Homo sapiens: one gene and its partners. The protein of the gene in region 3 purifies or fractionates together with the protein of the main gene of each other region. This does not show direct contact. Each region holds a gene or a part of one and is shown on either strand. Other genes may lie near its edges.

What was found.
Region 1: the proteins of GDPD5 (region 3) and NDUFS4 purify together in Homo sapiens (co-immunoprecipitation; 3 studies listed by BioGRID and IntAct, with this or other methods). This does not show direct contact.
Region 2: the proteins of GDPD5 (region 3) and PIP4P2 purify together in Homo sapiens (co-immunoprecipitation; 3 studies listed by BioGRID and IntAct, with this or other methods). This does not show direct contact.
Region 4: the proteins of GDPD5 (region 3) and SCAMP4 purify together in Homo sapiens (co-immunoprecipitation; 3 studies listed by BioGRID and IntAct, with this or other methods). This does not show direct contact.

Annotation. Positions count from the first base shown.
Region 1 is NC_000005.10:53,563,399-53,567,142, reverse strand, and holds part of NDUFS4 (NADH dehydrogenase [ubiquinone] iron-sulfur protein 4, mitochondrial isoform 1 precursor), read right to left. Parts: intron 1-3,744. UniProt on the Homo sapiens protein: Accessory subunit of the mitochondrial membrane respiratory chain NADH dehydrogenase (Complex I), that is believed not to be involved in catalysis. Complex I functions in the transfer of electrons from NADH to the respiratory chain.
Region 2 is NC_000008.11:91,030,856-91,034,599, forward strand, and holds part of PIP4P2 (type 2 phosphatidylinositol 4,5-bisphosphate 4-phosphatase), read right to left. Parts: intron 1-3,744. UniProt on the Homo sapiens protein: Catalyzes the hydrolysis of phosphatidylinositol-4,5-bisphosphate (PtdIns-4,5-P2) to phosphatidylinositol-4-phosphate (PtdIns-4-P).
Region 3 is NC_000011.10:75,515,699-75,519,442, forward strand, and holds part of GDPD5 (glycerophosphodiester phosphodiesterase domain-containing protein 5), read right to left. Parts: exon of another isoform or gene 3,317-3,744; intron 2,576-3,316; exon of another isoform or gene 2,518-2,575; intron 1,729-2,517; exon of another isoform or gene 1-1,728. UniProt on the Homo sapiens protein: Glycerophosphodiester phosphodiesterase that promotes neurite formation and drives spinal motor neuron differentiation.
Region 4 is NC_000019.10:1,918,659-1,922,402, reverse strand, and holds part of SCAMP4 (secretory carrier-associated membrane protein 4), read right to left. Parts: intron 3,515-3,744; coding exon 3,413-3,514; intron 1-3,412. UniProt on the Homo sapiens protein: Probably involved in membrane protein trafficking.

The sequences.
Region 1 (3,744 bases), on a different chromosome or scaffold from region 3:
GCTCAGTGGCTCACGCCTGTAATTCCAGCACTTTGGGAGGTCGAGGCAGGTGGATCACGAGGTCAGGAGTTTGAGACCAGCCTGACCAACATGGTGAAACCCCGTCTCTAATTAAAATACAAAGAAATTATCCAGGCGTGGTGGTGCGCGCCTGTAATCCCAGCTACTCGGGAGGCTGAGGCAGGAGAATTGCTTGAACCTGGGAGGCAGAGTTCACAGTGAGCCGAGATCACGCCACTGCATTTCAGCCTGGGCAACAAAGCAAGACTCCACCTCAAAAAAAAAAAAAAAAATACTTGGCGGTGGGGGAGGAAAAACTGCATCTGTACTTATCATGTACAGTCTTTTTTCTTTTCATTATTTCCTAAAGAATACAGGATAACAGTTATTTACAGAGAATTTACATTGTATTAGGTATCATAAGTAATCCAGAGATGATTTAAAGTATATAGGAGGATGTACAGAAGTTATATGGAAATACTACACCATCTTAAATCAAGGACTTGAGCATCCGTGGATTTTGGTGTCCTTGAGGAGTCCTGGAACCAATCTTTCATGGATACCAAGAGACAATTACATTTCCTGGCAATGTAAACTTCAGTAATTTCACTTCTGTACCTGTTTCCTCATCTGAAAAATGAGGATAACAACACCTGAGTTGATAGGATTACTGTGGGAAACACATGAGATAATACAGGTGAAATCCTTGGCACAGTAGCTGATACAGAGTAAATTAAAAACAAATGCTACTTGGAATTAATTTTGCTTGGAATAAACGATTCTCAACTTCTACCAAGGGACATGTTTTAGAAGCTCTTCCATTTGAAATTGTTTGTATTCAGTACAGACAATATGTATTCTGACTAAATTCTATGTATACCTCACCCCAAACAGATCTCTTCTAGCAAGTATTATACAGGAACCAAGTTGCTCCATCTTTCTCCCTTAAGTTCCGTGTATTATTAACTTTTTTTTGGAGTCTTGCCCTGTCACCCAGGCTAGAGTGCAGTGGTGCGATCTCGGCTCACTGCAACCTCCGCCTCCCAGGTTCAAGCGATTCTCCTGCCTCGGCCTCCCGAGTAGCTGGGATTACAGGCACCCGCCACCGCACCCGGCTAATTATTGTATTTTTTAGTGGAGACGGGGTTTCACCATGTTGGCCAGGCTGGTCTCGAACTCCTGACCTCATGATCCACCCGCCTTGGCCTCCCAAAATGCTGGGATTACAGGCGTGAGCCACCGCACCCGGCCGTATTACTGACTTTTTAAAACTTCGCATAGTTACTCTTACTCCAAAAAAGTTCTCATGTTCCAAGGGTACCCTTTCCCAAACATTCATTTCCTCTTGCATTTTTAAATTTGAATACAAAAGAAGTGTCTGAACACTTGTCAAAGTGTATGAATACAAAATCTATTCATAAGACAACTTCAATCCAAAAGTTAACAGAGTTCTAGGTGAATATCCTACACTCAGACCACTGCAAATAATTAGAATATGTGTTGTAGATAGTTTATCTTCATATTTATAAAGGTTAGTGCCTACCTGGCTATCACTGATGAGGGTATTAAAAGAAACACTGCGTAATGCTCCCTGCTTTTCCTCACAATCGCTCATCTCTAAATATGTATTTATTCATCTGTAAGATAAGCATTTACCTGCTACATGCAAGCCATTACACTAGATGCCATGAAGTACACACAAATAAACAAAAATGTGGTTGTGTCCTCAAAAAGCTTGCGACCTCACTGCTGATATATCGGTCCATGTGCTAAAACCTGCTCACTTGCAAATATGAGTGTATATAAAATAGAGTCAGCATAGGTTGTTATGCTGAGGTAACCAATCCAAACACCTTTGTGGCTTACAGCAAAGGTTTATTTTTCACTCAATTTATATTTTATAAAATCTTGCAATAAGAATCAGTTTCTGCTTTGCACTATGTAGTCTACAATCCAAGATGTGGGCTAAAACAGCAGACCCCACCTGGAGTACACCTACCTCACATCAGAGGGAAAAGGAATATGACAAAACACAGGAGAGCTCTCAAAGCTCCTGTTTGACATGGTATATCATTTCCACTAACATTTCACTGGATAAAGCAAGTCATTTGGCCAGTGGTTTTTGGATATGTAATCCTGTTGCAGACAGTGGTAGTGAATACTTTAAACAATAACACAATCTATCACAATACTTACAACCAAGATTAAAGAAATGAAAAACATTCAGGCCATTCAAACCAATAATAAAATTACCATTTATCTAGGGAAGGCTTACTATATGCCGACATTACATATTAAAATATTTAATTTTCCGGCTGGATACGGTGGCTCATGCCTGTAATCCTAACACTTTGGGAGGCCAAGGCACACGGATCACTTGGGGTCAGGTGTTCAAGACCAGTGTGAAACCCCGTCTGTACTGAAAATACAAAAATTAGCTGGGCGTGGTGGCAAGCACACCTACAGTCCCAGCTGCCTGTGAAGACTAAGGCAGGAGGATCACCTGAGCCCAGAGGGTGGAGGTTGCATGAGCCAAGATTGCGCCACTGCACTCCAGCCTGAGCAACAGAATGAGACTCTGTCTCAAAATATAATAATTATTTTCCTAACAAAAATTCAACGAAGATGTCTGCTACTGATGAAAACTAAGTATGGGCATTTGGAAAGAGGAAAAGAAACAAAACAAATAAACCTATCAGAAAACATATTAGAAATCTTTCAAGCTCTCAAACTTTGGCTTGGATGTGTTACAAAGATAGCAAAAATAGCTGCCCCTAGGAGAGGAATTTATTTAGTTTATCTGAAGTAGAAGTGAACCTATTGGTCTTAAGTGTCCTAAATTTGAGCTTAGCCTATTTCCCAGCAAGGTGTTAACAAACAGAATTCTTGTCAACCTTAAGGACTGCTTACTATTTGGAGGGTTCAAATTCAATTCCCCATCGAATTGAAGACTCAATTTCATGCTAGCTTATATAATGCTGAAGAACCAAACACAGCAACAGAATAAAGCCACAGATCAGGGCATAAAAGAGACCTCACAAACAGGTCCCAAACACTCAGTCCCCACCAGTCATTAATTAAAACCCTCTGGGTGATTTAACACCCTAAGGACTTGTTTGAGGAAAACACAAGACCTAGTAAATACTAAGGTGAGATAAGTATACATGAACACACTTAAATAAGTGAATAAAAACATCACTGCATCAAATATCTTAAGTATAGCTATTTTGAAATAGAGTGCCATTTCATCTGGCTGATAAATGCATTTAGAATAGTTAAATTTACCCTGGAAAATCTCTTAGGAAAGTCAGGGAAAGTAAGGATAAATGTAGACAACTTAGGGATGGGCGCGGTGGCTCCCGCCTGTCATCCCAGCACTTTGGGAGGCCGGGGCGGGTGGATCACCTGTGGGTAGGAGTTTGAGACCAGCCTGGCTAACACGGTGAAACTCCATCTCTACTAAAAATAAAAAAATTAGCTGGGCGAGGTGGTGGGCACCTGTAATCCCAGCTACTCTGGAGGCTGGGGCGGGAGAATCGCTTGAACCCGGGAGGCAGAGGTTGCAGTGAACTGAGATTGTGCCACTGCACTCTAGAATGGGTGACAAGAGCGAAACTACATCTCCAAAAAAAAAAAAAATGTAGACAATTTAACCCCTTTTTTTGCCTCCTCACATTCGGTACAGGGAAATGAGAAGCACATGGAAACTGAGACCAACACTACAGCACAAGCTCAGTAAGTAAC
Region 2 (3,744 bases), on a different chromosome or scaffold from region 3:
TTTCCAGCATCATGTTGTTTCATTCTATGGATATGACATGGCTTATTATGGTGGTTTTACAAAAAAGCCACAACTTCTTTGGCACTGCTCCCATTGAGAGGTAAGGTCTTGAATCTGGGTATTTGTAACTGCTTTGACAAATAGAGGATGGCAGAAATGACATTATATTTGACTTTTGAAGCTGGGTCATAAAAGACCACATGGCTTCCACTTAGGTCATCTTGTATTCAGGCATGTCTGATAGTTTTAATAATGACCTATGTCCTCATTAAGGGATGGTAGCAAATCCAAATACGACTTTTGCTGAGCCTGGCAAGGTATTTTATATAGAGAACTAGAACATGACAACCAAATTCTATAAACTTGGAAAATGCTTTTGTTACAAAACTTTAAAATAACTTTATATTAGTTTGTAAAATCCATACAGCTAATAGAAATCAATGTTTATTTGGATATGTCCAATGGTCTAAAAGGTGTCTGAAAATCTCACTTTAAGTCTACTCACTATCATTTCTCTATATTGTTTCTCCTCTGGATTGTCAGTCTTAGCACTTAATCTCTCAAACAATAAAATGTCATATTGTAACATGCCGTCTTCCAAATTCTCCCCCTGTGGAAATCACATGTTAAAAATGTCAAAAAATTCGGGGCTTTCTTGTACACTGTTTTAAAATCCTTACTACAGATTGACCAAGCCTAAATATCTCAATATGAGAGGAAGAAAAATTTTGCCATTGCCTTTAGAAGTAAATGCTTAGAATAAAATGCCCTAATCAATCATGCAGCACACACATGCAAATATATTCTACAGAGAAATAAAACAGTGCATGCTAGTTGGGCTTCTAATTTTTACAAGAGTCATGTAACATCCTTAATCTTCAATATATTATCTTTCTCATTTCTAAAAGCATACTGGAAGGAATAGCTATTTAGGTGAAAGAGGGACATTGGAAGTAAAAGAGTGAGATAAGAAAGGATAACAAGCATCTACATTTTAAATTTATAGATATATTTTCCTAAGTGTGTCCAGCTTCCTAAGAACAACTGTGTCATAAAATATAAAAGCCAAAGGTAAATTTATAGATATATTTTCCTAAGTGTGTCCAGCTTCCTAAGAACAACTGTGTCATAAAATATAAAAGCCAAAGGAAACATAATGCACCACTCCTTGGATAAATGTGGGAAACTGAGGCCCTGAGATGTAAAGTAACGATTCCAAGGCCAAACAGGTAGTAACTGGCGGAGATAAAAAGCCTCAGGTCTCCCAAGCCAAACACTACCTGGTGGCAGACCTTCTCTGGACTCTAAAGGGAGTTAGTTACACAATACTTGCACAATGCACCTGAAGTCCAGAAAAAGGAACCATGCTTTTTGCTTTTTTCACATTTGGTTGTTGTGGTTTTTACAGAAGAAAAGGAACTCACTTTACAACAGCAACTGGAAAAGAAAAAATCTAGAAAAGTTCAAAAGCAACATAAACTCCTTTGCACACCCCCATTACCACCAAAAATTTTTCTAAAAAAGCATAGAAACCCTCATAAAATAACAGAAACAGCAGGAAGAATGTATTCCTTTTCAGGAGCTACTATGGAATGCCATTCCCAATTTATTGAATACCTCTTACTCATTAAAAATGAAGCACAGGCCAGGCGCGGTGGCTCATGCCTGTAATCCAAGCACTTTGGGAGGCCAAGGTGGGTGGATCATTTGAGGTCAGGAGCTCGAGACCAGCCTGGCCAACATGGTGAAACCCCACCTCTCCTAAAAATACAAAAATTAGTCAAGTGTGGTGGCAGGCACCTGCAGTCTCATCTACTTGGGAGGCTGAGGAAGGAGAATTGCTTGAACCTAGGAGGTAGGGGTTGCAGTGAGCCGAGATCATGCCACTGCACTCCAGCCTGGGCAACAGAGTGAGAGTCTGTCTCAAAAAAAAAAAAAAAAAAAAAGAAAGAAACACAAAACACCTGAGCACAAGGTGTATTCAGGGTTACCTGCTTTTCCCAAATGGAAGTATTACAGTTTCCATTTAGATCACTTCCCAGATAGCTGTTTATTGCCCTCAAAGATAGTTATGAACATCCCTCCTGTTAACTTTCTTCTCCAATATCTATATCCATCTAGCTAACATTTGTATGCATTTGGCAAACCTTCCAAAATTTTAACAGAATGCTCTACCCTACAAGTTTTACATTCTTGAAGAGTCTGCATAGTCCTTGGAAACAAACAGGAAATTGAGAGCATCGTCTCCCTCTCCAGGAAAATGCTACTGTACATTTAATAAATAATTGTTGAATGAAATTTGCTCTCCAACCCCAAGTTTTCTCAGACCTCAGATTTGTACAACAAACTGCCTAATTCACATTTCTAATTGAATAACTAAAGGTATTGCAAACTCCACATGACTGAAACAGAATAGTGACTTCCACTGTTCTTCTCCCACCTCCCAAACACATGGCCAACTCTTCCTCCTGTTTGCCTATCTCAGATATAACCTTGTACCTACTTAGTTGGGTCATTTTTGGAGATTTGTGATTCCTTTCTTTTCACTGACTCAACCCATCAGCAAGTCCTGTTTAAAATACATCCTGACACCAACCACACCTCAGTGCTTCTGTCACCTGTACCCTGGTCCCCTGTTGCCTCTTCTGCTCTAACAGCATCCTGATTAGTGTCATGTCTCATTAGTCTGTTCTCCTCCACATGCCAACCAAGGGTGATTTTTTTAAAAAGTAAAGTGTTTTCATGTCTCTCCTTTGCTCCAACCTCTCCATAGCTTCTCATTATCCTCAGGACATAATCCCTTCTTCAGCAGGTGGAATAGAAATCTCCCCTGGGCTTCCCTCATTTACACCTCGCACCTCCTCTACCTCTTCTGCTGTCCTCTAAGTCACCATGCTCTAACCCACTGTCCCTTGTTTTTGTTTATTTATTTATTTATTTTTGAGACAGAGTCTCACTCTGTTGCGCAGGCTGGAGTACAATGGCACAATCGCAGCTCACTGCAGCCTCAAGCTCCTGGGCTCAAGAGATCCTCCAGCATCAGGCTCATGAGTAGCTGGGACTACAGGCATGAGCCGCAGTGCCCAGCCTCCTCCTTGTTTTTAAAATAGCAAGTGTTATACTTGCTGTTCCCGTTGCCTGGAGCACTCTTTCAGTAAATCTTCCAAAGGCTGATCCAACTCATGTTTCAGGTCTCTCGGTGATTGCTATCTCTGAGTTGTCTTTCCTGGACGCTCATCTCAAACATTTGCCATCCAAACAGTTACTCTCCACCCTCACAGGTTGCTTTATTTTCTTCACCCTCTGAAATTATAACGCTTACTGTATGTATCTCTCACAGGAATGTAAGCTCTCCAGCATCTGGAATACTGTAATAGGCATTCAAATATTTGAAAGGATGACTGAATGAAACATTTCTTAATATTTTAAAGATGCTCAGTATAGACAGAAGGAAATGTGGGCATTATAAAACAGAATATAAGAATCCTGGAGCCTGATGCCTACAGAATAATGACAAAAAGACTACAACAGCAAATGAGCTCACCACCATACTGGAAAGCTAGAAGCCGATCTATTTCACCAATGTGTGGGCTCTATTTTTCCTTGAAGAGGATGTGGCCTCAGTGAAGCAAATTTTGATTCAAGAACCATTTTGAAAAAAATTCCCTTAAATGGAGCATTAGCATTAGCATAGCACAATAGGCTTCTCATATTTGCCAAGGCCCTGCTTGCTCAGTATCACAG
Region 3 (3,744 bases):
GGCTGGGGCCGCTGCTCTGTGCACCTGAACTCGCCTGACACTAGCCTACCTGTGACTTCTGCTCCACTCCAGAGGTTCCCCTGTCCCTGGCAGGGTCACCCCAGAAGCCATCTATAGCTTACTTTGGTGGAGGAGGCAGAGAGGGAGAGATGGGTACCTCCAAAACTCCTCTCGCCGAGGTGTCTGTGGCAGCTCGGCTGCTGATTCATCTTTGGGGTAAGGGCTGAGAGCCCCTTCATTAAGGGGTATGGTAAAAACAGATGATCTTTAAACTGTGTCCTAAGGACAGTGTATTCAGTGGACTCCCGGGCTTTTGATGGACAGAGTGAGGAAGTGTCTTTGGTTTGCTTCTCCAGAGCCACTCTCTACCTTGTTTGGGGCCCTGGGAACTGACCTCTGTGGAATGTAATGGGCTCCATGCTGCTGGCTTTCAGAGAGGTACACCCAACAGGAAGCATAAATGGGGGACTGAAGGAAAGAGGAAAGATAGTTGAAGTTTATCCCCTGTGAGGTCTCCTGGGTTGACTGGGTCCCTGTACTGATGGCCCACAGCCCCTATCCCTATAGCTGCCCACTTCCCTTGCTCCTTCAGCCCTGAGTGGTAACTGCTCCCAGCCACTGCTAGTCCCTCGGTGCTGCACTATCCCGTGTTGATTTGTCACACGCCTAATGCCTGAGCCAGTCACTCTGGGTTGATGTACCCTCTCTGGCTGTGCCCAGGCAAGGAGACCAAGCACTGCCACTGATGGCCCCTTTTGTAGTCTTCCTCTGTCCAGTCCTCAGAGCCTCCTCTGGTCTTAAAGAAGAGCAGTTTGAAGGGATGCCCATGATTACATGTGCAGGCCTCCTCTGTCCTCTGTCTCAGCCTGGGCCTGGTGGGGCAAGGGGAGCAGACTGGGAGACAGGGAGCGTGGACCAGCCAGTGAAGGAAGGGGCAGGAGGCAGGGGTCAGCTCCCCAGCAAGTGCATGCACCAACAGCTCTTGAGTGCTTAGTTTACGGTAGGCACTGTGCTCCACATACCAGTAATTTTATTTGCTTCTCAGGTAATCCCAGGAAGTCCTTCCTACAAATGCATTTTATAGGAGAAACAACTCGTGCTCAAAGAGATAAAATGATTCTTCCAGGGTCATCCTGCCAGTAAGTGACAAAGCCAGGATCAACATAAGTTTTCTGTCTTCTGTATGGTAGACACGTTGGACAGTGATACCTGGACTTGAGCAAGCCCTGAGAATGACCTTGTATGGCAGGCGCACCTCAATGCAGTTTGGTTCTAAGCTAAGGAATCTGGGAGTAGCCAACCCGGAGATCCACTCCTTATCTATGAGGAACATCTGAGCTCTTGGCCCATCCTATGGAACTTGCGGGCCAAACAGAGGATTGAGGTCTGTGGTTTGGGGTAAATGGAGGTTGCTAGGTGGAAGTTGTTGGGGGAGGTGCTAAGTGAAAATGCTATAGAAATTGCAAGCTTTTAGGCTGGGGGGCGGTAGCTCACAGCTATAATCCCAGCACTTTGGGAGGCTGAGGCAGGCGGATCACCTGAAGTCAGGAGTTTGAGACCAGCCTAACCAACATAGCGAAACTCCATCTCTACTAAAAATACAAAATTAGCTGCGTGTGGTGGCACTTGCCTGTAATCCCAGCTACTTGGGAGGCTGAGGCAGGAGAATCGCTTGAACCTGGGAGGCGGAGGCTGCAGTGAGTGAAGATCGCGCCATTGCACTCCAGCCTGGGCAATAAGAACGAAACTCTGTCTCAAAAAAAAAAACCAAAACCAAAACCAAAAACAAAAAAACTGCACACTTCCTGCGAGTGGTTGTGGTTCTTCGGTCCAGCCAGCAGCCACTGGACTCTCTCCCCTGTGTGTGAGCCCGTAGTAAAACCCCATGGCTCATTCGCTGGCTCTGGGTCTCCTCTTTGGCCTCTTGAGCCTGGTGCCATCCTCACTGGCACTGATAGGGGTTTAGCTCAACACCTAGTAACTACCTTGAAATAATTTTAGTGAACTGGCTCACAATCACAGCAGAGTTGGATGACTTAAGTGGGGTCAATTATCGGTGAGGATTTGCACAGAGGCCTCCAATGTTCCCTGGACACCCTCCCCTAGATTAAAAAAAAAAATCCTCTGACATTCTTCAGTTCTCCCAGGTGGGACAGGGGCCCCAAGCAGGTGGTGCAGTTGGGTGTCCGGGTTGGAAAAACAAGCAGATTCAGACAAGGCTTCATTGTTAAGGAGAGTCTGACACTTTGACCATTAAAGCAAAACTGAGCAAAACAAAATGCTTACTGCCTTGTCTTATCTCTTAGAGAGAAAGGGGACAGTGGGAAGGGCCCCCGGGCTGGGTGTTGATCCCACCCTAACCAGCGCCAGTCTCAGAGACCTGGCCTCAGGTGGCTGGGGCAGGGAGTTCAGGGTCTCAGTCCAGCCCGGCGTCAGGTATGGGGTGGGTGCTTGCCATGTGTGGCCTCGTCTGGCCTCTGTGGCCCTTTCAGAGAGATCGTTATTGTCATTTTTCAGATGAGGAAACTGAGGCTCCGAGAAGACACGCAGGGAGCAGCTGCATGCTGGAACCCAGGTTAACTGGATTACCAAGTCTTCCCACTCCCCTCATCTCTCCAGGCAGGAAGGTCCTGGGGGGAGGAAGCAGCCTCGGAAGGAATGAGCTCCTTGTCCTGGGGATGTGCAAGTATTGTCTTGGGACACTGTGGGAGGTAGGCTGCAGAGGGCAGCCAGGTGGCTCTCAAACTGAAATCACCAGGGGAGCTTCATCAACTACTGATGCCTGGGTCATGCCCCAGAGATTGTGGGGCCTGCAGGACTTTTAAAAGTTTCCCAGATGATTCTAATGTGAAACAAAGTTTGAAAGCCATGGGCTTGGATGCCCACTGCTGCCCTTCCCACCTCTGAAACTCTCCTGCCACACGCCTTTCTAAGGAAAGAAGGGATTTATTACCCTGACCCCATTTTACAAAATGGGCAGAAGCCAAGCAAAATATAAGGGTGTCCTCAAGGCCCCACAGCCAGCAACAAATCGAGGCAGCATGAGGGGTCCCCTGATTTCAGACTGCCCCTGGGGTGAGCTTCTTTAAGACACTTGGGGGTTCCAGCTCCCTTGTCAGTGGGAGAGAAGTTTCTCTTTGAGCCTCCTGGGTGAGAGAGTGAGACATTCTTCGTGGCATTTTTTTTAAAGAGTCCACTCGTTCAAAAGCTAAACAGCTGCAGGATTAACGCTGGAAGACCCCCTCTGCTTGCTGGTGTGCCTTGGGAGCAAGAAGATAAAAGAACTCAAAGCAGGCCTGTTTATCCTTTTCTGCAGGAGATTTGGTCACAAGCCTGGGAAGAGCTGAGCCTGTCAGACCAGCAGCCCACACTTCCTCCCCACCTGCCTTTCCGCCTTCCTCATGCCCTGAAAGCAGAATGTCACAGATGGAGAGATGGTGTGGGTTGGTGGGAAGTGAGAGGCCTGTGGAGTCCACTGGTCCTGGGGTCTGCCCAAGCTCTCCTCCTTGCCAGCTACCTTTGGAGAGGAGCTACTCCTCTCTCAGCTCATTCAGTGCTGATCTCACAGAGGTCCAAAGTCAGCAACATGGGCACCACCTCCAGGAAGGCTTCCCTGACTCCCCTCCCCACCCAGCGCCGGGCAACCCCAGGCCCCTGGCCTTCCCTGTCACATTCTGTGTTGTCACTGCTTCTGTGTCCTCCCAACCCTACCAGGCTGTTCATTCATTCATTCCACGGAGCAGC
Region 4 (3,744 bases), on a different chromosome or scaffold from region 3:
ATTAGCCAGGCATGAGGGCGCATGCCTGTAATCCCAGCTATCTGGGAGGCTGAAGCGGGAGGCTGCAGTGAGCCGAGATCGTGCCGTTGCTCTCCAGCCTGGGGGACAGAGCAAGATTCTGTCTCAAAATAAAAAAACGAGGGAAAGCACTGCTTAGATCAGCCACCAGTGGGACACTGGGAAGGCCAGCACGCCCTGGGTCCCTCTGTGCAGGACCAGCCTCTGGGCATTGCACCTGCCTTTGAGACCCAGGAGGCAGAAAACAGTCATTTTGAGATTTTTGTCTTAACAGGTGATGAAACCACAGGGTTTAAAATTCAGGGAACTTAAAGGCAGGCACGACGTACAGTCTCTCTCCTGCTGACTCCCCTCCCTGGTGCACAGGCAGCCCGCAGGACCCACACCCCCGGATGTGTCCGGGGAGCTTATGCACACACATGCACGGGGCGTGATATGCACGCACACGCGGTACCCCCCGCCGCGTCCCTGCAAGATGCTGGCCTGTCCTGTGTTCGCCTGCTTGGAGCCTCCACAGCATCACAGGCTGCATGGTCTTTGGGTCATTCCTTCCTCTTTTTTTTTTTCTGGAGAGATGGTTTCTCCCTATGTTGCCCAGGCCAGTCTGAACTCCTGGCCTCAAGCAGTGATTCTCCTGCTTTGGCCTCCCAAAGCGCTGGGATTACAGGCGTCAGCCACCATGCCTGGCCTCTTTTATTTTTTAAAAAAGTAAACCTCTGTTTGGATGTAATTTTAGATTTATGAAAAGCGGCAAAGGCATTTGAGGACTCCTGCCGCCGCCCCCGCAGCTTCCCACTGGCCAGCATCGCACGCCCCCGCATGCAAGTGTCAGGTCTAGGGAGGCACCCAGCACACTGTCAGTGGGCTGCATGCTCCGCTTAGAGGCTGCGGCGCCCGCTGATGTCCGATTCCTGGCGGGGCCCACCGGGGGCCCCTGCTGCACCGTGTCCTCAGTACCTGGCTGCCGCCATGTGGCCACCCTCACCATCTACACAGCTAGGCCCCGCTGGGGGTCATTTCTCTGGAGTTTCCAGTCCTCTGCCACCACAGATGCTGCCGTGGCTCATGGCCTCGGGCATGCGTCACCCCTGGGGAGGTGACGCTGGTGAAGCTGCCCGGGGCAGGGAGAGCGGGGCTGTCGCCTCTTGCCCCACAGCAGTGCACAGAGTGTGTGGGGAGGTGGCGCTGGTGAAGCCGCCCAGGACAGGGAGAGCGGGGCTGTCCCCTCTCGCCCCACAGCAGCGCACTGAGCGTGGGGCCTCACTAAGCCAACGGTGGACATGAAGTCGCTGTGCGCTGTGGTTTGATTTCTCTCATTACAAGGGGGGCCGGGCTCTCCTAAGACCCGCTGGGTTTCTTTCTCAAGAGCGTTCACCTTCTGTCCACCTCGGGCAGGGACCGCATGCTCAGCTTCTCCCGTGACCTGCGGGAGATGACCCAGGCTCCAATGAGAAGAGCCAAGTCGCTGCTGCCGCACGTGCACGAGGGCCGAGGGGGCAGGGAGGTCTCTGAGGGTCACATGTGGGCACTCACCTCATGCCGGGATCTCAGGACCACCCAACACGGGCACAGGCCTGTCCACCCAGCTCAGCCTGGGAGAGCTGGGGACGCACCGGGGAGGCGGCTCACAGGAGGCACTGGAGCCCAGGGAAGGGCCAGTGGGAGCCGAGCTGGCAGCTGGGAGCTCAGGAGGACTCGGAGGATGACGAGCAGTGCCTTGACCTGCAGCCACAGCCTCTGCAGGAGGGGGAAGCACCCCAAAGGCTGGCAGAGCTGGGAGTCCCAGGCACACGCTCACTATGACTCTAACTCAGATCCCTGGGGCAACGTCACTCAGGCTCTTGGGGTGGCAGGTGACAGACCAGCTTCAGCGGCACATCCGAGGGGTGCACAAACCACAGATCCCAGCCACCCTGGAGGGCCTGGCGCCAGGCGCAGGTGCAGGAGGGGAGAGGCCTGCAGATCGAGGGGCCCTGAAGGGAGAGGAGTCACCATCCCAGGAAACCTGGGACCTTATCTGGATTCTGATCTGTGCACTGGCGTGAGAGTACCGCAGTCTTGTGGGGCAGGAACCCCAGAACAGGAGCTTGCTAATGGGAGCCCAGGAAACCAAAGGCACCCACGGCTCCGTGAGCAGCGTCACCCGTGGGGAGCTCCCGCCGTGCCAAGGACAAGGGAGACACGTCGGGGACGTGGGCGAGAACAGTCACTCTCTGCAACTGAGAATTACAAATTATTCCAAAATAAAAAGCCTATTTAAAAAGCCACAAATTTGGCCAGGCACAGTGGCTCACGCCTGTAATCCCAGCACTTTGGGAGGCCGAGGCGGGTGGATCACGAGGTTAGGAGTTTCAGACCAGCCTGACCAACACATGGTGAAACCCCGTCTCTTACTAAAAATACAAAAATTTGCTGGGTGTGGGGGCACACACCTGTAGTCCCAGCTACTCGGGAGGCTGAGGCAGGAGAATCGCTTGAACCTGGGAGGTGAAGGTTGCAGTGAGCCAAGATCATGTCACTGCACCCCAGCCTGAGTGACAGAGAGCGACTCCATCTCAAAAAAAAATAATAATAGTTTAAAAAAAGGGCCGGGTGCAGTGGCTCACACCTGTAATCCTAGCACTTTGGGAGGCTGAGAAAGGCGGATTGCCTGAGCTCGGGAGTTCGATACCAGCCTGGGCAACACGGTGAAACCCCGTCTCTACTAAAATACAAAAGAAATTAGCCAGGCGTGGTGGCGGGCGCCTGTAGTCCCAGCTACTCGGGAGGCTGAGGCAGGAGAATTGCTTGAACCCAGGATGTGGAGGTTGCAGTGAGCTGAGATTGCACCACTGCGCCCCAGCCTGGGTGACAGAGCAAGACTCTGTCTCAAAAAAAAAAAAAAAAAAAAGAAAAGAAAAAAGGCAGAAATTTAAGACACCAACACAAACACTTCTGGGCACCTGGCAGCCTTAGAGAGTGACTGTGAGTTTCTCAGGTGTGGTAACAGCACCAGGTATGTGTGTTTTTACAGATGTACAGGTCTTCCTCCTGCAGCGATCCGTGCAGAAACATCAGCAGCCAGGAACTGGCTCCCAGACCCCGGGTCAGGGGTGTGATCAACACTCAGGAGACAAGCCTGGCTGGGCGCTGGCGAGGACGCAGGCACTGCCAGGGCGAGCTCGGACCCCTCCCTAGGAGAGTGCCTACAATCGCGAACCATGGCTGGGTGCTGGCGAGGACGCGGGCGCTGGCGAGGACGCGGGCGCTGCCAGGGTGAGCTCAGACCCCTCCCTAGGAGAGCGCGTACAATCCCGGACCAGCACGCTCCGGTGGCCGCCTGGCTTCCCAGCAGGCCCACAACCTGGCAGCTGAGCCACATCACAGCCACCACGCCCATCAGAGAGAGGCTTACCACGCGCCCCAGCCGGAGAAGCCAATCGCCTGGATGACGGTCAGGACAAACTGGGCTCCGAAGATGAAGAAAAACGCCATGAAATTAAAGGAGCTGTCGGCTCTGGGGAGGGACAGAAAACACGACGGTTACCACAGCCCTGGCTTCTCCCAGACGCGCCTAGAGAGGAACGGGCCAGTCAGAGATGGTGAGAGCGGAGGCTCTATTTTATTCCTTTTTTTTTTTTTTTGAGATGGAGTCTCACTCTGTCGCCCAGGCTGGAGAGCAGTGTCGAGATCTCGGCTCACTGCAACCTCTGCCTCCCGGGTTCAAGCGATTCTCTTGCCTCAGCC